Linked DNA regions of Homo sapiens: region 2 is linked to region 1. Evidence: fine-mapped expression QTL. A gene starts in region 1. The other region holds a variant in brackets. All regions are shown on one strand. Distances are from middle to middle.

Region 1 (11,546 bases):
ATCTTTTGAATGAATAAGTCTCTTTTCTTACAGTAAATACATTTTTTTTTTTTGAGATGGAGTTTTGCCCTTTTTGCCCAGGCTGGAGTGCAATGGCATGGTCTCAACTCACTGCAACCTCCGCCTCCCGGGTTCAAGTGCTTCTCCTGCCTCAGCCTCCCAAGTAGCTGGGATTACAGGCACCTGCCACCATGCCCGGCTAATTTTTGTATTTTTAGTAGAGACGGGGGTTTCGCCATGTTGGCCAGGCTGGTCTCGAACTCCTGACCTCAGGTGACCTGCCCGTCTCGGCCTCCCTAAGTGCTGGGATTATAGGCATGAGCCACCACGTCCAGCCAATAAAAACATTTCTTTAAATGGAAGAAATTAATTTTATTTATAAACCAACAATTTAAGTGCCCTAGTGAAATCAGCCATTAGGAGGAAATTTGCAGTGAATGTAAATTTCTTTAAAAGTTTTTTAAAATCAAAATTGTATATATTTATGGTATATAACAGTGAATGTAAATTTCTATTTAGCAAGTGAATTTTTCTTAAAAGGAGGCATACTTACAGGAAGAAAACACATTAACAGCTCCCTGAGAGGGCTCTGAGTATTTAGTTTGGTGGACTGAACAGTAGCATCAATTAATCTTCCCACATATCTTGGACTTTATCAGATTAGGATGAAGAATTTTGGAACTGAATCCACTTTGGTTGTCTTAATAGAAAAATTTTCTGAGCAAAAAGCAAAGCCTATTCTTATTTTTCCGTCTATGATCTGGCTGAAGGGTCAGTCTAGGGATGGCTTTCTGACAAGTCACAGAAGGCGGCACTGATGACTGCAGACACCTTAACTGAACAATCCTTCAGTACTTATCACTGTTCCCTCCAAGCTACTGTCTTTCCAGATTCACTGGGCATTGTCAATCCCTGGTAAATGAACTGTCAACAACCAACAAAAATCTTACCTGATCTAACAAGTTCAATATTCCAACTAAACTTGCTTCTTGTAGAAGTCTGGAAGGCTTGCCCTTTACTCAGGCACTCATTTATTCATTTATTTATTCGCACCATTCACTTATCCGATCAACAAATATTCTCAACCTTAAAAAATCCTGAGATGATTCTGGATAATAACAAGAAAGTTTAGACAAAGCAGCAATCAGCAGCACAAGAGCTGGAACCAGGAACTAAAGGAATACCTAACCACATATTGTGCCTGGAATATCTTTCTGCCCAACTGCAGTGTCACTCTACAGGAATCTTTCTAAATCTCATTTTAGGAAGAATGTCTTTGGATATTCCTCTATTAATATCCTTAGTGTAATGCTTATGATATTACATTGAAATTAACCGCTTCCACTCACCAGACTGAGCTCCTTGAGGGAAAACAACTGTGTCATCCAATCCTCTTTGTGTCCCTGGTATCCAGCACAGGGCCTGGCATATAGAATTTATTACCAATGCAGCAGTTCTCTAGATTCCAATGAAGCTAACAGATTTCTAGGTATTATCAGACCTGCATTGTTCAGTATGATAGCCACTAGCTACATGTGGCTATGAAGCACTCGAAATGTGGTTAGGCAGGATGAATTGAGGTGTGCTGTAAGTATTTAAAAAACATCAGAGACTTAGTACAAAATAATGTAAGATATCTCTAATAAGTTTTACACTGATTACATGTTGAAATGGTAATACTTTGGATATTGGGTTAAGTGATTACTAAAATTCATGTCACTTGTTTCTTTCTGCTTTTTAAAATGTGGCTATTAGAAAATTTAAAATTAAATATGTGGCTCACCTTATATTTCTATAGGATAATGCTGGGCTAAATCAAAGGTTATTTTCATGTACAGCCACAACTGGTCTCTTGTACTTGATTCTCTTAAGTCATGTTGGTAGGAAGGGGAATTTGGTTTAATGACTAAAAAAAATTAGGTTTTCATTAAGCCTGTTTTCAGAATATCCAGGGACTATGGACTTTTTTGTGTGTAAAATTTTATCAGTATGTCCTACACTTTTTAGTAAGTTTGCCTTTCTAAAGAAAAAATAGTAATAATTCCAACTCTTGCTGAGTTTAACTCTTCGTTGAGTCAAAGTCTTACCAAGGACATAAAATATCCATGCAGCCAACACTTAAATAGCTCTTCAGTTTCTGGCTACAAGTGACTCTGTTATCTTCTATCCTCCCTCAGCCTCTGGCATCCTGAGCAGTCAACCCCTCCCATTCTGAGCTCTTTCCACTGACCTCAGAAGAAGGCTGGCTCAAATAACACACTTGTCAAAACACCTAGGTAAGCACATCTGTGGGAGACACCATATAAATAGATATATGGAAACAGAGTGCTCTGTACTGATAATGAAAACCATTTACAAATTCCTTGCACCTTCCAAAAGGTTTATTCCTGCAAGGACTAGTTAAATGTGAATGTCACTAATAATTTTAATTCTGTCAGCTTAGACAGACCTGTTTTATAGAAGCACTGGCAAAGCTGCAATTGAAGGTGATTTTTAAGTTTTGGGTACTGCTGTGGCAAAAATCCTCTGTGCTTAAATAGAGAAATGAAAATTGACCAACAGAGAATGACCGAAAATAAAAATGCTGAAAAGTTTCTAAGTGATCTGTGGGAAAGGCTGAAAGAGTTGGCTTTCACTGGTCTACAGCAAGAGAAATACAAAAGTAACAGTCCTATTTACTTCTGTCTCCTCTCCATACAGGAAACCATGAGTTTGGCACATGGTAAGTGTTAAATAAATATTAGTCAAATGAAAATACAAATGTATAGGTGCTTATTATTTAAAGGAATATTGCAATCACTGTGCTTTCCTTGTTTTTTGTTTGTTTGTTTTTATCCTGACTGGTATAGTAGACACAACATAGCTTCCAATTTTACTCAGAATAAAATTCATAGTCCTTACCATGGGCTACAAAGCCCTACATGATCTGCAACCCAACTATCTCTTAGCTTTGACTCTGACCACTCGCCCCATTACCTTACTCTGTTCCAGCATCCTGACCAACTTGCGTTCCTCAAATAAGACACATATCCCTCCCTCAGTGCCCTTGCAGCTGGTCATCCCTTTGCCTAGAAACTCATTCCTTCAGTATCTGCTCAAATGTCACCTCATCAGAGAGGCTTTCTTCACTACCTCATCCAAATATACCCCACCCATTTATCCTGCTATATTTGTCTTCATAATTTCTTACCACTTGACATACTATATGTTTTATTTGTCTCCCCAAACTGGAGTGAGTTTTAGCAGGGCAGAGACCTTATTCATTTTGTTCACAGCTGTATTCCTTGTGCCTAGGAAGTCTCTGGCACATTGTAGGAGTTCAATAAATATCTGCCAAATGAATACATTAATGAACATTAAATTGGAGTCCAGACACCTGGGGTCTACTCCTAATTCTGTTCCAAAAAATTCTGTGGCTGACCGGGCACGGTGGCTCATGCCTATAATCCCAGGATTTTGGGAGGCTGGAGGCAGATGGATTGCTTGGGCCAAGGAGTTCAAGACCAGCCTGGGCAACACGGCAAAACCCTGTCTCTTATAAAAATACAAAAAAGTAGCCAGGCCTGGTGATGCACACCTGTAGTCCCAGCTACTCAGGAGGCTGAGATGGGAGGATCACCTGAGCCTGGTTAGTCAAGGCTGCAGTGAGCCGTGATCACGCCACTGCAATCCAGCCTGGGCAATCAGAGTGAGATCCTACCTCAAGAAAAAAAAAAAAAAAAAATTGTGTGACTTTGAACAAACGACTCCTGACAGTTTCTGAATCTAAAATCAGATCGGTTGAGAACAGATACTTCCAAAGCCTCTGCTAGCTCTAAAATCCTGTGAGTTTTATAATCTGCCTTTCACAAAAGTTCTCCCATGAAGTTTTAGAAACATAAAAATCTTTTTTGATATCCACAAACTACAAGCACTATGAGGCATTTTATTATGATTCAAAACACTGCTCCAATGATGAAGGCTTCTCCAACCCTTCCAGGTAGCATGTATCCCAAGACTTTGAGGTGCTTCATACACACCTTTTCTTCCTTAAATCTCTTCTAACAGCTAATGACATAATTACGTTTTTCTGTTTCTCCAACTAGAAGGTGAATATGAGGACAGTAATGGATTCTTATTTTTGTATCCCCAGCACCTCGCATTGTCTATGGCAAATATTAATAGTAGGCACTCCATGAATGTTTAGTGAATGAATGAATACAAAGTGAAATAGGATCATTATTTATACTGAAAGCTGAGACCATCTCTCCCTTCATGGATGAATGGTGGGCAGAAGGTAGAGCCTTCCTGCTAATAATGACTCATCTGATGGAATAAAAGAAACTAAAGCTTAATGGGAACCTACTAAGAACCAAGCACTCCTACACACATTCACATAATTTATGCAATCCTTATGACAACCTTATGAATTAGGAATTCTTATTATTTTACAGATGAGAAAATTGGGCTCAAAGAGGACAGGATTTTCCCATTATGGAACAACTAATAGGATTCACAGGCCTCTTGATGTTACATGTCACATTCATATCACTGGATGATATATCAGAAGGATAGTTCTCTGATCCAATATCCATGTTGGTGTATGTAAATGATGAGCTTTCCTGCACTACAAAAGCATTTTATAATTAAAGAGAATTTTTCCTCAATTCAGAAAGGTAACTATAGATAATTATATATATCATACCTGAAAGGGTAAAGGAACGTTTACAGATTACTTTGTGTCTTTTGAATTTTTAAAAATGAAGGTTTGCAAACCAAAAATAAAATTCTAAGCCCCCGACCATCTGAGTGGACCCCTCCTTTCAGCAAGGGCATTCCAAAGCTAACCTGAAAAACTCACTCAGGCCGTGATGGTGGAGGTGGGGAGATGGAACATGCCTCACTACACTACACCCCCCTCCCTTTTGGAATTACTGATAGAACAACTCTTTCAGTCTAATAAGAAACACTTACAATCTATTCTCTCTCCAGCTGGCTACCTGGAGGCTTCATCTGCATGATAAAACTTTGGTCTCAACATCCCCTTATCATAATGCAGACATTCCTTTCCACTGATTCCAAGTCTTAAGAGAATAACTTAACTCTTTCAACCAATTGCCAATCAGAAAAAACTTAAACCTACCTATAACCTAGAAGCCCCCATGCCCTTCAGTTTTCCCACCTTTCTGGACCAAACCAATGTGCATCTTACATGTATTTGATTGAGGTCTCATGTCTCCCTAAAATGTGTAAAATTAAGCTGTCCCCCAACCACCTTGGCCACATGTTCTCAGGATCTCCTGCAGGCCGTGTCACAGGCCATTGGTCACTCATATTTGGCTCAGAACCAATCTCTTCAGATATTTTACAGAGTTTGATGCTTTTTCGTCGATACGTGTTTTTCCTAAATCCAGAAGTTTTGCTGACTTCCTGTTACCCTTGTCATCCAATAAAAAATAAATTGGATGCTTTTTCCAGGCCTCCATTTTCCATATTCCCTCATGTGTCCCTCCACTCTATTTATTCTGACCTCTTTCCCTGGTGTCCACCTTACTGTCTGTAGTCAGAACAGGCTGAAGTTTACTGCAGACAAATCACATCCTTTTCTGAAGGCCTTGACCTTTGTCAAATGGCAATGCAACCCCAGAGTGAATGGTCAGCTGCTCACATTTTAGTGTAAATGAGTTTTCAGATTCTCTTGGTTGTAAATTGTGGTTGGGCAAGGATATGAGGATCCCAGACAACAGTAAGGGAAAGGTTATAAAAGCTGAGTTGACAGACTTCCCCTTCTCAACACTGCCAAGGGATCACAGGTCCCCTACTCCCTGATCCACTTCCTACAGGTGCCTTCTCCTCTGCTCTTCCTGTTTGTAGTCCCTGCCCACTACTTCAAGGCAGCTCCAGCCCAACACTCCCTCTTCTGCCCTTGCACAGTACCCATAGTCCTCCCTTCCACCTCTATATAGTCTCACACTCCCCATGTTAGGGAAACGTTTCCCCATAGGGGAAAAAGTTAGGGAAACTTTTTCCACAAGGTCCTTGAGGCCAGGGACTGTGCTTGCTTCCCACTTGGCAGCTGTTTGATAAACAGGTGACATACATTCAGGACTTCTTGTCTGACCATCCATCCTCCTCAATGCCCCTCTATGGGCTACTTCTTCAACATCGGCTCTGCTGGCTTTGATTAGGTAAGCTGGGCGTTCTGAGATGGTACACACCCACCTGCCACCTTCAAAGCCTTTCTACTGTTATGAACAGACTGAGGAAGAGACATCACTGACTGACACACAGTCAGGAAAAAACCCAAAACTCATACTCAAGGAAAACAAGTGAAGGTAGAAGCTAATCCAAATAGACATTAGATGATTTCTATTATTCTCATTTTAGGGCCTTCTTAAAGGGACGGAGGGTGGGAGATCGAAGGGTGGGAGGTGCATCTTTTGTACATAGTATTACTTCATCGCATTCACGGAAACTGATATTTGGGATTTGGGACCAGGACTTGAAGAACAGGGATTACTGAAACTCATGCTTCTTTTCCCCCAAAGAATTTATGGGCCTTTGTATCAAAATAAGGTCACCTTATTGCAGCCTAGCCTACTGCTAGGCCCCCGGGGAGACCGCCATTCATCGGAAGGTACCAGTGCGCCTTCACCGCCTCCACCCCACCCCCTTCTCCTCTAGCGCAGGATTTCGCGATTGTTCCTGTGCCTCGGGCCAGATGTACGTGTTCCAGCACATTTCGGCAGTTATGCAGGACCTAAGTAAATCCTCAGGAATAAACAAGAGCAGCGAGTCACAAGGAGCTGGGGGCGGGGGTAATGAACTCTGCTGCAGGCGGGCCTGTCACTCCAGCTGACAGCGAGCACCTTCACCTTCAAGTTCTTTTAAACGACAGTGCACCCAGAGAGAAAGTGCCTAGCTCGAGGCAAACGAACCCCAGAGCTTAAAAACTTAAAGCAAACAAGCAAGGGTGCTGCTAGCTGCCCTGCAGGCCCTGGGCCGAGGAGAGAGGCTCGCGCTACCTGGAGTCCGGCTCCTCCTCCGACTCCGCCGCCGTCTCGTCCTCCTCGCCCTCCGACTCCTCCTCGGTCTCCAGCTCCCGGGTCGCCTCCTCGTCCCCGTCGGAGCCGAGAAAGCTCTCGCCAGCGTGGTTGCTATCGCGGCTCGCCATCGCCTCTCCCGGGCCTGGGCCGGGGCCGGAGCCGGAGCCGCCCGCGCCGCGCCTGGTGTTCTCCCTCCGACTGCTCTGGCCCCTGCCCTCCCCAGCCCTGCCCCTGCGGGGGCGGCTCGGGTTCCCGGCGCCGGGGGCGGGCGAGCCCCGCGACTTTAAATAGAAGGCGTCAAAGTTTCGCCACCGAGCTTCTGGGGCCCGGGCTCAGCTTCTCCTCTTCCCTGAGCCCTCCCCCGCCCCCGTTTCGCCAGATCCCTGGCGGGCCTTTCGGACAACTGGAGATCACTTTAAGGGGCGCGGGCTCCGGCTGCACCAGGGGGTTCAAAGGAGGAAAGGCAACCTAGCCCCGTCTCTTATTTCCTCCAGAGTGAGTCTTTTCGGTTTTGAGCTGAGCTACTTTCTGGACCCTTTATCCCAAACAATACCCTGAGCTGGGCACTTAACTACCAGGCACTCTGCTAAGGGTCTCGCTTTCATTACCTCGATTCTGTGGTGGTACCTGTAGAAGGTTTTACTGTAGTGCTGGTTTCCCAGATGAGGAAACTGAGACTCCGAAGAGCTCCAGCAGCTCAGGCTGTCATTGCTAGTAAAATGACCCAATGAGAAACAAAGCTAGGCGTGCCCTGCTCAAAAGCCCAGTTTTGAACCAGTGTTCCGTCCCGGCTCTCTTTATATCGCAAGTCAATATACTGTGTATTTTCTTGCTCAGTGGTCCCTGTTATTGAGCCAGGAAACTTTATCTCCACTCATCTTAAACCTTGAGGAGGAGCAATTTCCCCCACGTTAGCAAAAAGCTAAGTTTTGTCTGAAACTGGCCCAAATGCCCCAAACCTTTCCCCGGATCAAGTTGTGGTTAAAACCCCTCAATGGCTTCCCACTGCTCAAAGACTGAACCCCAACACCCTCACAAAGGTAACGGTTGCCTAACAGGCCATGTTTTACCTGTCTACTCTTTTTTTTTTTTTGAGATGGAGTCTTGCTCTTGTCGCCCAGACTGGAGTGCAATGGCGCGATCTCGGTCCAGTGCAACTTCCACCTCCTGGGTTCACGCGATTCTCCTGCCTCAGCCTCCCGAGTAGCTGGGACTACAGGCGCGCACCACCATGCCCAGCTAATTTTTGTATTTTTAGTAGAGACGGGGTTTCACCATATTGGCTAGCCTAGTCTCGAACTCCTGACCTCAGGTGATCTGCCCACCTCAGCCTCCCAAAGTTCTGGAATTACAGGTGTGAGCCCCCACGCCCAGCTGGTCAGGTGTCTTTAGAAGTCAGGAGTTCCCAACATTGTCAAGTCACTCCACTGTGTCTTTATTAACACAATTCCTTCTGCCTCAAAGGTTGGTCCCATTTTTACCAGGATACCCATCATTCAAGATCACCACCTTTCACTGAAATCCCAAAGTTAAACTCAGTACCTCTCTTCCAGGTTCCCACATAATCCTATATTCAAATTATGTTTGTATCTCCTTCCCCAGCAGACTTCGTAAGTTTACTACTCTTCTTTGTCCCATCATCCCCATCTCTTACAAGCCTACACACTAGCAAAGTAGCTAGCACATAGCAGGTACATATAATGGATGCTCCCTGAAGAGAACAGAACCAGAACTGCTATGTACAAATGGAGGTAACTTTACAATAAAGATATTCATTTCATGAGAATGATTTGATGGCTAGAAGAGTTAACATTTATTTTTAATTATAGCAAGTCACAGAGTTGTTAAATATGACTGTAAGCTGGGGATTATTCACCAGTTACACGAGCTGGTATGCATGCATTATGTCTGGAGGTAATGAACTGTAAATCATTGAATTACAGTACAGATACATCAGCTAGTGGGGCATAAGGAGGGAAAACAGCAGAGTCAAGGCTTCCACAGCTCACTAAACCAGGTTTAGCATCAGCAATATTTATTCTCTTAACACCAGCTAGACTTCACCATCAGTAATCCCAAATGACCATGCTCATCCAGTACAAAAGGAATTCAATCACAGCTGTGGCAATCTGTTAAACACTAATCAAAATCACAGGTAGCCATTCTATGTTCCTTCCATCATTTAATTAAAAATTTCTTACAAACATTAATGTCTATGAGATTTATTTGCAAAGATCCTAGTTCAAATCAATCCAAAATTTAGAATTGTAGTACAGATTGCACATTTTAAACACCACTTTAACAACATATGCAAATACAGTCAACCCTCCGTAACCATGTAGGATTTGTGAATTCAACCAGGATGAAAAATATTTGGGAGGGGGTAGGGAGGAGGCAGAATGGTTGCATCTGTACCGAACAGGTATAGACTTTTTGTCTTGTCATTATTATTCCCTAAACAATACAGTATAACAACTATTTACATAGCATTTACATTGTATTACGTATCAGGTAATTTAGAGATGATTTAAAGTATCAAGAGAATGTGTGTAGGATATATGCAAACACTACACCATTTTATATAAGGGACTTGAGTATCTGTGGATTTTGGTATCTGAAGAGGACGGGGTTGACCTGGAATCAATCCCTCAATATACTGAGGGACAACTATATACAGAAATGGACAGATCAACACAAACAGAAAATAATTTAGTACTCACCACACAAATAATTGAGATTAATAACTTAAAAGTCCAGAAAATTCTCTCATATATTAACAGTTCACTTATCTGATATTTGGCCAGTTATGTGTGCATAATTTCAGGCCTCAGTCTACTGATATAGAATTGGGTCTAAGTTTAGTGACTTCTTGATCTGTTTTTCGTGGTAAAACAAAGAAAAGCAGTAGTAAGTGTGGGGCCACTGAAAACTGAGAAAACAGTGACAGTGAAGGAACCCACACCATGGTAAATTCTGGGGTTTTATTAGGAAATGTCATAATACTGTAGAGGCAGAGGGTACATACTTACCCATCCCTGAAAGTTGCACAGTATTACTGAATAGTACTATGACTAATGCTTATAATGATTACCCAGTCATCACTAGAATATTAACTCTACTCAGTACATTCTGATTAAGAGATGCACAGTGTAAATTTTAGGAAAAATTCCCCCCCAAAATATGAAAAGCTCAAATGCATAAAAAGTGTTACACATCAGGAATCTAAAAAATTCACTATGTGTAAACTTTCATTCCTCATAATGCCAGAGACATAAGATATTGATGTCGTTAGCTGGCTAATAAGTAGATTTAGTTCAGTTCTAGATGATAACTACAGCCTCGGTCTCATCTCAAAGCAAAGATTTTCACAGAAAAAAAAGGCACCTCAACAATGTCCATATATAAATTTTATTGCATTTGACATCATACAAAAATTTGAACTTAAGGAAGAAAATGAAAATGTGCACCTTTTACAAGTCAAAGAAAAGCAAAAGTTTTAGCATTTGGTCTGCAAAAAAAAAATACGTTAGAGGTACAAAACTGTACTACAGCAGGTCTAAAAAATGTTGGACATAGTTCTTTTGAAAAAGTTAAAACTGTTTTCAAGGTTACTTTTTATATTTAAATTTACAGGCACTGACCAATTTACAAATATTTACATAAATCAAAAAGACCCTTAATAAACACTGTAGCTTTTTTTTTAGCAGCCACCACTTCTTTCATGTGAAAAAAGAAATACTAAAAAAGAGATTTTTTACAAACATTAAGCTTTTATTTATAATAATTTTATTGTGTCTTATCTAAAACATTTTGTGGTGACTTACTGCCTAAAAATTCCAGTTTAGATTACAATCCTATAATTGTACACAGAAAAATATCTGATACTACAAACAGGATATAATCTTAACTTTGATCTCAGTTTCTGTTGCTTCATGTCACAGAGAAAACAGAGCAGGAAAATGGCAAGTAAAACAGAAGTGCACATTGCACTAAGCTATCGTAAAGCACAGGAAACAATCTTTTCAAAATGTCTACACTGAACTGATTCTTTAAAACGATTCACTAACTGTTGTAAGAGTTAGTGCTCCCATTACTACAGTGCAAAATGTATTGTTGTTTCAATACAAAATTTAAAGCAATCTCAAGAGTACATCAAAAGCATGTGAAGTACTAATGAAATGCTAATACAGACACACCCAAAGCCTCAGTCTATCCCAGTGAGTCAAGCAAAGACTTAAGGCAATTGTTCAGTATTTCATGACTGCAGTGATTTGACTGAAATGAAAGATTTCGTTTTGCTTCAAGTAACTGAACAACTGACTTGAATCTTCACTTTACTAGAACAGACTTTGACAACAAACTATCTAACGTAGGTTATACTTTAAGCATGTATGAATTAGACCCTTTCCAAAATTCTACACATCTCTTCAGGATTAGCATGTGGTACAATTAATTGAAGTTATATCAAAAACTTTTTATTTGTTCAGTTAATTTCCCAAAATATATTTTATCTGATCACCT
Region 2 (11,546 bases), 170 kb before region 1:
GTGGGAAGTTCCCATTATGCTGCAAACCCATATAAAAGCTGGGTAAACTATAACAACAAAAAAATGTTACTTTTGTCGTTGTTATCGTTGCCATTTCATAGCCAAATTCTAAACTAAGTAAGAAAAACTCCTAGGTCCAAAAAGGAAGTAGAAACGCAAACTCATAAAATTGAGCAGGTGTTAAAAGCAAATGGTCCATAGGGATATCAGAAACCGGTGCTAGCATAGGTTTTAAAACCCACAGGAGCAGAGGATTAGGCCTCAGGCCTGCAGGTGATAAGAAGCTGAACGGACCTCTTTGAATAAAGCTAAAAGCCAGAAAGTAATCTTCCTTCCGGAAATAAGGACTAGAAGAACTCTGCCCACTGGTCTAAGGATGCATCAGGAAGTTGACCATCTGTCCAACATTGTGGGTGGTGAAAGAGTAGACCTCCAAAAATCAAACTTCCAAAATTGCACCCTGTGTGGGTGTTAGTCAGAATTCCTCCAAACCATAACTAAAGGAAGTTACAATTAAAAAGTAAACATAAAAATTATCTAAGAATGAACGCAGCAAAGGCAAATAATGAACCAAATGACACATATGCCTGCACAGTACAGCCTCATGGGACACAGCAGGAAACTATTTCTCCTGAAGATGAGCTCATGGTAAAATATCTCTAATTCCATGAAAAAAGGAATTATCTTAAAATACCGTCAACAGATGAAATAGTTGGGAAAATTTACACCCTATAAATTACAGCAATGGAACAATATGAAAAGGTTTTTAAATGGGTATGTTTAAGATATTCAAAAAGAAAGGAAAAATAAAACATACAAAAGCAATATTAGGACATTATGAAAAAGAATATGCAAATTCAAGAAAGCACCATTTTGGTATATTATATACACCTGAAAAATATAGTAAGCAATGACTGGGAAACAATGATGGAACACATTAAGTGGTTGAGACTAGAGAAATCAATAGTCTTCCTATATAAAAGCAATAACCCCTGAGAACATATAATAACAAGGAGACCTCATTTATAATAGCTGCAACAACAAAAACACAAAATATTTAGTAATAAACAAAGAAATATTTAAGATCTATATGAAGAAAACTTTAAAATGCCACTTAGGGATGCAAAAAACTTGAAAAAATTGTAAAGACTAACCCTGTTTTTGCATATTTAGCTCTGACATAAGAAAAATGCTAATTACCCCTAAGGTAATATATATGTACAATTTTTAAAACATCAACAGAATTTTCATTTAATTACATACCAACTTTAAACTTCATTTGAAAAAATAAACAAGAATAGACTGAAAAGCAGAAGTATTAAGGGAGAACTAACCCTTCCAGATATTGACATATATTAATCTATAATAATAAAAATTAATGCGGTTCTAGAGCATAAATACACAAATAGATTAATGAAACAGAATAAAAAGCAAATTAAACACAAACACCTATGAAAATTTAGTATCTGATAAGAATAAAATTTAAAATCATTAAGGGAAAATGATACTGGGCCAAGGAATGGGTTGTCTGAAATGAAAAATTTGTTGGTTGGCTTAAGGAGGACTAGACATTACAGAAAACAAGAACAGTGAACTTTAGGCATAACAATTGAAACTATCCAGACTAAAGCATAGAGAAAAAAATAAGCCTTAAAAAATAAACACAGCCTCAGTGACTTGTGGGATAATATGTGCAAATGGAGTCTCAGGAAAGGTAAGGGTGGGCTGGGGGAATTAAGAAATAACATTTGAAGAAATAATGACCAAAATTTTTCCAAATTTGATGAAAAGATACACCCACAGTTTCAAGAAGTTCAGCAAAACTGAAGTGAGATAAAGACAAACACACTAAAATGCATTATAATCAAATGGCTGGAAATCAGTAACAAAGATGAAACCTCAAAGGCAGCCAGAAAACACACACATGCACACACTATATATATGAACAAAGCTGAAAATTTGACTAACTTCTCATTAGAAACAATGAAAGCCAAAAGAAAATTAAATGACATCTTTAAAGTGCTGAAAGAAAAAAAACTATTAGTCGAGAATTTGTATCCCAAAAAAATCCCTCAAAAATAAAGACAAAAATTAAAAACATTTTAGGCAAACAAAAGCTGAGTGCATTCATTGCCAGCAGACCTGCACTAAAAGAAATAAAAGAGGATATTTTTCAAGCTGAAAGAAATAATATCAGATAGAAATTTGGATCTGCAAAAGGAATAAGGAAAAACAGAAATGATAAATATGTGATTAAATATAAAATACTTATTTCTAATTTTTAAACTTATTTTAAAAGACATTTAATTGTTAATAACAGTGTATATGGGCCTTACAACATATGCAGAAATAAACTGTATGACGATGATAATACAGAAGACTGGAAGGGAGAAGTAGAAATATGCTGCTGTCAAGTGGTATAATATTATTTGAAAATAAGTTGTGATAAGTTCAAGATTCATATTGTAAACTGTAGAATGACCCTATGAAAATAGTTTTTAAAATGAGCTATGGCCAATAAGCCAACAGCAGATAGAATATTAAAAATACTCAATAAATCCAAAAGAGGGTAGGAAAAGATGAAGGAACAAAGATCAATTGAGACAGATAGAAAACAAATAGCATATTTGAACCCAACTATATTAATAGTTGCATTAAATACAAATGGTCAAACACTCAAATTAAAAGGCAGAGATTGTCAAACTAGATAAAACAGTGAGACCCAACAAGTGTTATCTGCAAAAAAATCTACTTTCCCACTTTAAATACAAAAATTCAGAAAAGTTAAATGCTGGAATAGAAAAAGATATACTAGATAAAAAATAATAGGAAAATGGAAATGGCTATATTTATGTCAAATGAAATGGATTTCAAGACAACGATTATTGTCAAAGATGAAAGAAACATTTCATAGCAATACATAATAATACATCAAGAAGGCATAAGACTACATGAGTGTACATCCAAAAACAGAACTTCAAAAACTTCATGTAAAGCACAAACAAAACTGAAAGAAGAAATATAAAATGTTAATACTTCTGTCTTAGTAATTGATGCAAAAAGAAATCAGTAGCGATATAGAAGATATGAACCACAGTTGGTCTAAATAATATTTGTAGAACATGACACCCCAAACCAGCAGAATAATGCCTTCTTTTCAAATGGACATAAATATTCACAAGGATAGACAATTGCATTGGCCATAAAACAAGTCTGAATACATTTAATAGGATTGAAATTATACTTAATATACTCTGTAACCTAATTAAATTAGAAATTAATAATCCCCATGGGGTCTGTTATCATGGAGGAAAACCAAAGGAATCGATTGCTGGCAGGTATGCCCTAAAAAAAAAAAATGCTAAAGGATGTTCTTCAGGCTGAAGATAGACGATATCAGAGGAAAACCTGGAAATTAGGAAATGAAGAAAAAGCAACAGCAGTATAGTAAATATCTGTGTCAATAAATACTATTTCCCTCCTCTTCAGTTACTTAAATTGTGTATGACTACTGAAAGCAAAAATCATTAAATTATATAGTGGAGATTTCAATGTATGTAAATGTAAAGGAACCAATATGATTGGAAGAGTCTATACTTTAGTTGAAGTGGGAAAATACTACCTGTAAGTAGAATGTGGAACTTTAGGTATGTATACGGTAACCCCTAGAGCACCTATAAAATTTTTAAAAACAAACAAAGATATAGCCAGGAAGCCAGTAGCTAAATTGAGATGGAATGCTAATTATTCAAACAAACATTAAATAATATTAAATGTTCAAATAATCCAAAATAAGGTATGAAATAGAAAACAGAAGAACAAAAATTAGAGGTGAAAACAGGATACAAGATATATCTTTAAATATATTCTGTATTTATTCAGATAGGTTAAAAGTAAAAAGATGGAGAAAAATGTACCATACTGGAGTGGCTATGTTATTATCAAAGCAGATTTCAGAGATAAAGAGGGACATTTCATAATAATAAAGGGTTCAATTTGCCAAGAAGACATAATCTTAAATGCATATTCACCTAACAACAATATTTCAAAATATATGAAGCAAAAACTAGAAGAACTGAAAGGAGAAACAGACAAATCCATAATTATAGTTGGAGATGTTAACACTCTTCCCTTGGTAATCAATAGAAAAAGTAGACATAAAATCAGCAAGGTTATAGAAGACACGAACAACACTATCAACCAACTTTACCCAAGTAATTTTTTTGTTTTTGAGATGGAGTTTCGCTCTTGTTGCCCAAGCTGAAGTGCAGTGGCGTGATCTCAGCTCACTGCAACCTCTGCCTCCCAGGTTCAAGCGATTCTCCTGCCTCAGCCTCCTGAGTAGCTGGGATTACAGGCACCTGCCATCAAGCCTGGCAAATCTTTTGTATTTTTAGTAGAGATGGGGTTTCACCAGGCTGGTCTTGAATCCTGACCTTAGGTGATCCGCCCCCCTCGGCCTCCCAAAGTGCCAGGATTACAGGCATGAGCCACTGCACCTGGCCCCAAATGATTTTTATACAGAACACTTCACCTAACAAATGCACATTCTTTTCAAGTACACAAGATAGACCACATTCTGTGCTGTAAATAAACCTTAGCAAACGTAAAATAATTGAAAGCAAAGAAAGTATATTCTGTAAACATAACTGAATTAATTTAGAAATCAACATAAAGATATTAGGAAAATGCTAACACTTTAAATTTATTGTGTATTTTAAACATTGCACAATAAAAATATAAAATAAAACTTGAAATGTTTAAACTAGCCCAGAATGAAAGCTTGGTGAGAATAAAAGTAACGATAGTCCCTCATTACTAGACTGTTATCAGAGACTCTGATAAGACTAAAAGTGGTGAGGGGGCGTATGGGAGGGAAATGAAGTCCCCTCACAAGTTTCCAGAAGGAAAAATCCACAACGACAAAGAACATGATAGGATCGTCCAAGGTAAATGAAATCTGCAATGTAAATCATTAAATTGTGAAATGTAAGTCATGGTTCTATACCTTCTGTGACATTTGATCAAGGTAGAAGAAAAATTCTGAGAACCTTGCTGTTTCTCCAGCAGCCTGCAGTTGTCACTCCTCCCTTCTCTCTCAACTTTTTCCAACTTTAGAATTTCTGGCAGAGACTGGACCAAAAGTCACAAGGTTTAATGAGCAGTGTCGTTTCAGGCCACGAATTTGTGAG[T/C]GCCTGTTTCTGCTCACAGCTCTGCCCACTTCTCTCTCTCTACCATAAAGCTTTTTGGTCAAACTCCACTTAAGCTTAGCAGCTGCCACTATTTCCAGGATCTGGCAACGAGAATAAACTGGTTGAATCCCAGCTGTAGGAATTTGGGCAACCACCCGACGGCTTAGCCTCATTTTCCTTAGCTGTGAAATAAAGGCAATTAACCCACCTCACAGGAGTTGTGAGGATGAAATGGAATAATTAAATTATTAAATAGGATAATTTAAATGTAAAGGTGTAAAAGTGCTTTGTCAAGAGGAAAGGCACCTTCCAAGGATTTATTGCTAAAGGAACCCAGTCTCAGGACCTCGCTGTGGTGTTCACCTGGGGTAGTGGCCAAAGGTGTGGCTTAAATCAGTGAACCATCCATCATATTTACTAGAGAGAGGGCAGAGGTGGCCCTTGACCACCAAAATCCCTGCCTCCCCTTTCATGATGTGGCACTGGTGCTGGAAAGAGGCTGACCAGCCAGAGACAGCATTTCCCAGCCTCCTTTGCATCTACGTGTGGCCAGAAGAATAGTTCTTTCCATTGGCCTGTGAGCCACAGCTGTTTTTTAAGAAGCAGGAGTGCCTTCTCCTTGCTCTTTTCTCTTCTTCTGGGTGGCTAGATGTGTATGAAAATAACCAGACCCAGATCATGGTGGAGGAGCCACAAGCCTGAAGGAATCTGAGTCCCGGAATTGCAGCACCTGGAGGAGGAGAGGCACCCAGTCACAAGAAACACCTACTTGGGACCATTATAGAAGCACAAAATAAAACATCTATGATGTTAGAGCAATTACGTATTTTGGTGTCTATGTAATAAAGCAGTTGGTATGACCTTAACAAGGAGGCTGTATAGTAAGTTCTGGGTGTAATCTCTTTCTCTGCCAAGATTTTGTGGCCTTGGACTCTTTTATACCTGTTACCTCATCTATAAGTACAGATGATAATTGTTCTTGTCTTATTGGGTTGTTAGGAAAGTTAGTTGATGTAATGCACAGAAGATGCCAATAACCATATATGTTCAGTAAATGTTGGCCATGATTATTAACAGCATAGAATTATCAGACTTTTAAAAAATTCATTCATTGACTCCAGGAAAGATTTCTACCTCTGCAACTTGTCTCCAGGTGACTGTATCCATTACATGCACACCCAAATATTTTACAAAGAAATTATTCAGGGACTTCGTGTTTTTCCTAGGCAGTTGCGTCTTTATTTGAATATAGTTAACTGGAAACCTCCAAGCCTAAAGTTTCAGGCTCAGTTTGTACCTGAAGAGTCACACATGTGGACTTAATGATAGTGTGTGACTTGACCTACAATGACTCGGAAGCCCAACTAACCTGTCCTCTTTACCGTAAAATCCAGAAGTCAGATGCTGTTGCCTTACAGCTGCAGGTCTGATTCTGACCAGCAGAGGGCAGTGCTGCACACAAACTCGTGCAACTTTTGAAGGTACCCAGTGCCTTTTCATTGTCAAGTTTCCGTGTGTGTGGGGGTGGGTTTTCTCCCCAGTTTTATTCCTTGCCTTCAGAAGAATGGCCATGATATTTCAGAAAATCATGATTATCCTCAGCTCAGCTTTGATAGTTCTTAGTCTGTTGTGTGCTCACTGGCAAATCACATTTTGTGACCCTGCATGTTGATGCTGGTGGCCCACAGGCTAAAGTGAACATCAAGGGAAATACTGAAGGGGAAATAAAGTTATAAAAAGGGCAGCCTGGGAAGGGTGGGGATTGGCCTAGTGATGCTTGGGAGAGGCGTATCTGCTGAATGTGAGAATAGGAGCCCCCGCTCCTTCCCGTATCTGCTGGCACAGCCACCTCCTCCTTGTCCTCCTTTCCTGAGTCACTTACACCCACCTAGCTTCTGCAAATGATTCCACCCCGTCTTCTCCCACAACATGGCAAATTCCGGGACTCAGTCCTATGAACCTTAGTAATTCTAAGTTGTGTGATACATTTCAGAATCTCTCCTATATGAGATTTTCTGGAAACACACATGCCCATGGCTCACTCTAGACCTCCTGAATCAGATGCTAGGGTGGGTGAGAGTTTTAAGGAGCTCCCAGGATGATCAAGGTTGGTTCAAGCACCCCACACCCACCCTGAGAACCACTGGTATAGTTAATGAAGACCTGGGAGAGGCAAATGGCAGAAGAATGGAGAGGAGGGGACAGCTGGGGTGGAGTTGATGTGATTCAGTGATCCATTGCTTCTGTTACTATCCCCATTTTCCCCAAAGGGAAATTTGCAGCCCACATATAGTGACAGGTGATCTCACTGCTTTCTTTTTCTTTTTTCTTTTCTTTTTTTTTTTTTTTTTTTTTTTGAGACGGAGTCTCACTCTTCACCCAGGCTGGAGAGCAGTGGCACAATCTTGGCTCACTGCGGCCTCCGTCTCCTGGGTTCAAGCGATTCTCCTGCCTCAGCCTCTTAAGTAGTAGGGATTACAGGCCCCTGCCACCACGCCCAACTACATTTTGTATTTTTAGTAGAGACGGGGGTTTCACCAAGTTGGCCAGGCTGGTCTTGAACCTCTGACCTCAGGTGATCCGCCCACCTCGGCCTCCCAAAGTGCTGGGATTACAGGGATGAGCCACCATGCCTGGCCCTCACTGCTTTCTTCATGGAGAGAAGGAAAGCTCTTCAACTGTTCTCCTGCCTCTCTCACTCTTGCCCTGGGTTCTTATCCATATTCTCCATCTTTCCTCCTCTCTGACTGCTTGGCCTCTCTCCGCCTCCACCCATGCCTGAGCCCACCTTCTCTGCCTCCTCCCATTACCCGTTTCCCACCTGCACCTCTGGCGTCACCCTCTCCAGGGATGCATTTCCTCCTGCCCTCAGCCCCATCACCTGTCTTCAAAGCTTGCCTCCCTCTCACTGTCTTACGGGCTCTCCCCTCTCCTGGTGCTCCTCTCACTCTTTCCCCTCTTCCCTGTCCCCGCCTTCTTTGTGCTGGACTTGGTCACTCCTTTACATGACTATCAACACATCCTCTGAACTGGCCCCTCGGTCTCCCCCAGGCTTCCCTCCAGACTGAGTCCAGAGAGGTTCTTCTAGCACGCTAATCTGACATTGCCTTGCACTGACCTAAAAACCCTTCACTGCCCCTGCCCCACACCCCTCAGCATATCACACAGGCCTCCCTGCCTACTCTTCCCATCCTCTGGAGTTTTCCCTGTAGCAGTACGCGTCTGTGAACCTCTTAAGGAATGTTTGCTTTTGCCTGGCACTGCTTTCCCCATCTTGCTTCCTAAAATGAGCTCCCATTCATTCTACAAAACCCAGCTCAGGTACCACCTCCCCTGAAAAGCCTTTCCTTGTACACTCAGACTGATTTCATCATTCTGTCTTCTGTGATAGCTCTGGCTTAATATCAGCTTCTCATTGTTGTAACTTCCCGCTCTGAAACCTTGGAATCATGACGTATTCCTTCTCCCCATAATTTATTCATTTACAATTATCTCTTCCTTTCCAAGCGTTGAGCTTCTTGAGAATGTAGACTGGGAATTATTAATCTTGGGGCTCCAATTCCTAGCACGGCGTCTCGCTCAGTAATTGTGGGACAGAATTGGGGGAAAGCTAGTCTGTCTGCTTCCTTTCACGGATGGACTTCTTTGAAATAGCAGATGCCTGCCTGCCTTTGTAGTGTTTCTACTCCCACCCATCCCTTCACCCACTAAAATCTGTTTTCCTCACATATTTACAATCTTTGAAAGAAACAAATGACTCAGCCACCATGTCTGAAGTCTGTGCCCATTCACTTCTCTTCGTCATCCTCTCCGCATCATTTGTCACTGTTGACTACAACCCTCCCTGAAGTTCTTCCCTTGGTTTCTGTAGTGGATAGTCACTGTCTTGGTTGTGTCAATTCTACCTTCTTCTGGGAGCAGCACCCCAGTGTTCCTCTAGGGAACCAACCCTCTCCCACCCTCAGCATCCCATTTTCAGTGTCCAGGTTGAGGTGCTGCTCTCTCCAAGACCAGCAAGTCAGAGCTGAGTGTGGCTTCACATCCGAGCATAGCCACCTCTTGGCCCCAGAGATTGGCTCAGAGGTGAGCATGTAATGGCAACCATTGGAACTGTTTGTTCCTCCTGCGGCAGAAGATAGAATGGAGTTCCTGACTGCTATTTTGTCACCATAAAGAGAAGAGTCCTGAGCCAACAGAGGAAAGTAGAATACAGCGTAGGAGTAAAAATAAGTCTCAATGTCTTTGAGCCACTGAATGCGTCTGAATGTGGACTACCCTGGACTTACCAGTTATATGAGGCAATATATCTCTTTTTTTATTAAACCAATTTGAATTGTTTCTTATCACTTGCAAAAAAAAGTCTTGACAAATTATGGTTATGATGATCTGCAGTATCTCAGATTTCCACCTACATTCTCTTTCTCCTTCATTGGTTTTTTATTCTCCTCCTATCTCATGCATGGGATCCTGATGCTAATGATAGAAATTTCCATTGCAGAATACTTTATCACTCGCAACTTACCTGTCCACAGCCCTCACCAGCATTCACATTCTTCCATATTGAACACACCAATTCTGAAGCTTCAATTCTTATTTCTATATAACAAACCAAATTGTCACCTCCAATTCCAACTTCTCCACAAATGCCTGCCCTCATTTTTCTAACCACCTGCCACTCATCATCAGAATCCCACCAATACTACCGACTTACCTAAAGTCTAATTCTTCCTTCACAATTTCTCTTTTTCCAAATCCATTGCTCTTTCTGATTATTCTAATTTTGATCCAGGTATTAACACTTTCCAGTTTCCTCTGGTTTAAAACCCTAGGGTTATCTTTAATCACTCTTTCTCTATACCTCCCAGTTCAGCCCCAAAACACACACAGTTGCGAAGTCCTTTTGAGTTGATTTCTGGAATGCCTTTTCTCTGTTCCCCCACCCTATCCTCACCACCATTATGTCCTGATTAGGGACTTTAACTTCCTTTATGTAGATTCTAGTCTGCTACTGTGGCCTCACTCCTCCCTGCCCAGCAGCCCGGGGTATTCCTATAGGGCAGTTCCGAGTCCATCAGGCCTCTGCTCCAAACGTCTTGAATGGCGGGCTCCTCACTGACACGCAGGCCCTCAGGGTTCTCGCCGTCTGCTTATTCCCTACCTGTTCCCTCTCTTCAGGGGCTTCTCTCTCAAGGGTGGCTGCCTTTCCCTCTCTCATGTTTTATATGTGGAGCTCTGACACCTAGAAATCGCCCCCAGTCCCACTCCCCATCTCTATTGAAATTCCAGCCACTTTCACCCCAGGCTAAAGGTCATCTCCTTTCCTCTAGTGACCAGATAGGGAAGTACAGCATAGATGGCAGCACAGTTTGCGAGCATCAGAGCTGGTCATCCACAGATGCTCACACTGGTGCCAACCCAAGGTGAACACTCTAAGTGTGTGCTGAACAAGGTGAGCACTCTACGTGTGTGCTGTAGCCTTGGCTCGGTCCTGTCACCCTCCCACCTATGACTCACACCTGGGTCAACGTGCTTCTGACTCCCATTGAGTCAGAGAGCTGACACATGCGTGGCAGTAGGGGGCTCTACACCATCTCTCGGGCTGGAACTAAAGCAAACCAAAATGGAACAACCAGAAAGCTTAGTCAACATGCATGTGATATCCTGCAATATCCTGCATTGAGGTTCAAATTGTGAATTCAGTGGTGTGGAATGGGGGAGGCTAGGTGTTCTGGGGAGGACTTAGGCTTTTGGGAGTTTGGGTGGACTCTGGGCTCTGCATGAACCAGCAGAGGGCCAGAGCTGCCAAGAGAGTGAATGTCATCAGAGGCTTTGTGAACAAAAGGTGGTATGCGGAGCAAGGGAAATGGCAGCCCCCTTTTGCCCATCCACACTATCAAGGATTGAGGTCTGATCCAGGCAGCTCATGTCAAGAAGGAATGGACCAACTGCAGCCAGCCTCAGGCAGGATCACGGCCATGACCCAGTGGGTCAGGAAACCAGAACAACTGAGGCACAGGTAGAATACTGGGCTGAAAGGAAGACTTGGCAGGGACATGAGAGCTGTCTTCAAACATTTGGAGGGTGTCTTCTGCTTTCTAAAAGGAGTTAACCTTTGCTATGTAGCTAAGGAAGGTGGAGTTAGGGTCATTGGATAAGAACTGTAGAGGGGCATTTTAGCTTAGGAACAGGAAAAAGGTTTTGAATGCAAATATGTTCATTATATATACGCTGTGGGATTTGGGGGGGAATTTTTACCTTTTTACTTTATTTTTCCTATGAATTGTTCTTCTGATTTATAGATGTATGTGTTTTGTACTGAAGGGGACTTGGGTTGTTTTTGACTGGCCAGAGCCC

Alleles and levels. Positions count from the first base shown, and alleles are read on the strand shown. Sizes are in standard deviations (SD) of each study's normalised expression.
As copies of C replace T in region 2, the expression in thyroid of the gene that starts at base 7,225 in region 1 goes down (small effect, 0.28 SD a copy in GTEx).

The links.
Region 2: its variant is fine-mapped to the expression of CMYA5 in thyroid (GTEx, PIP 0.98).

The regions. Positions count from the first base shown.
Region 1 is chr5:79,685,515-79,697,060 of GRCh38, reverse strand. CMYA5 (cardiomyopathy associated 5) reads right to left here and starts at 7,225. Exons shown (of 13, transcript NM_153610.5): 1 at 7,005-7,225. The coding sequence starts at 7,153. It overlaps TENT2 (terminal nucleotidyltransferase 2), which reads right to left. Exons shown (of 15, transcript NM_001114394.3): 15 at 8,815-11,546. RefSeq lists an enhancer at 7,214-7,715.
Region 2 is chr5:79,853,403-79,864,948 of GRCh38, reverse strand. It overlaps LOC105379048 (a long non-coding RNA gene), which reads right to left and starts at 5,088. Exons shown (of 3, transcript XR_948500.3): 1 at 5,009-5,088. The variant T/C (reference allele first, on the strand shown) is at 5,193.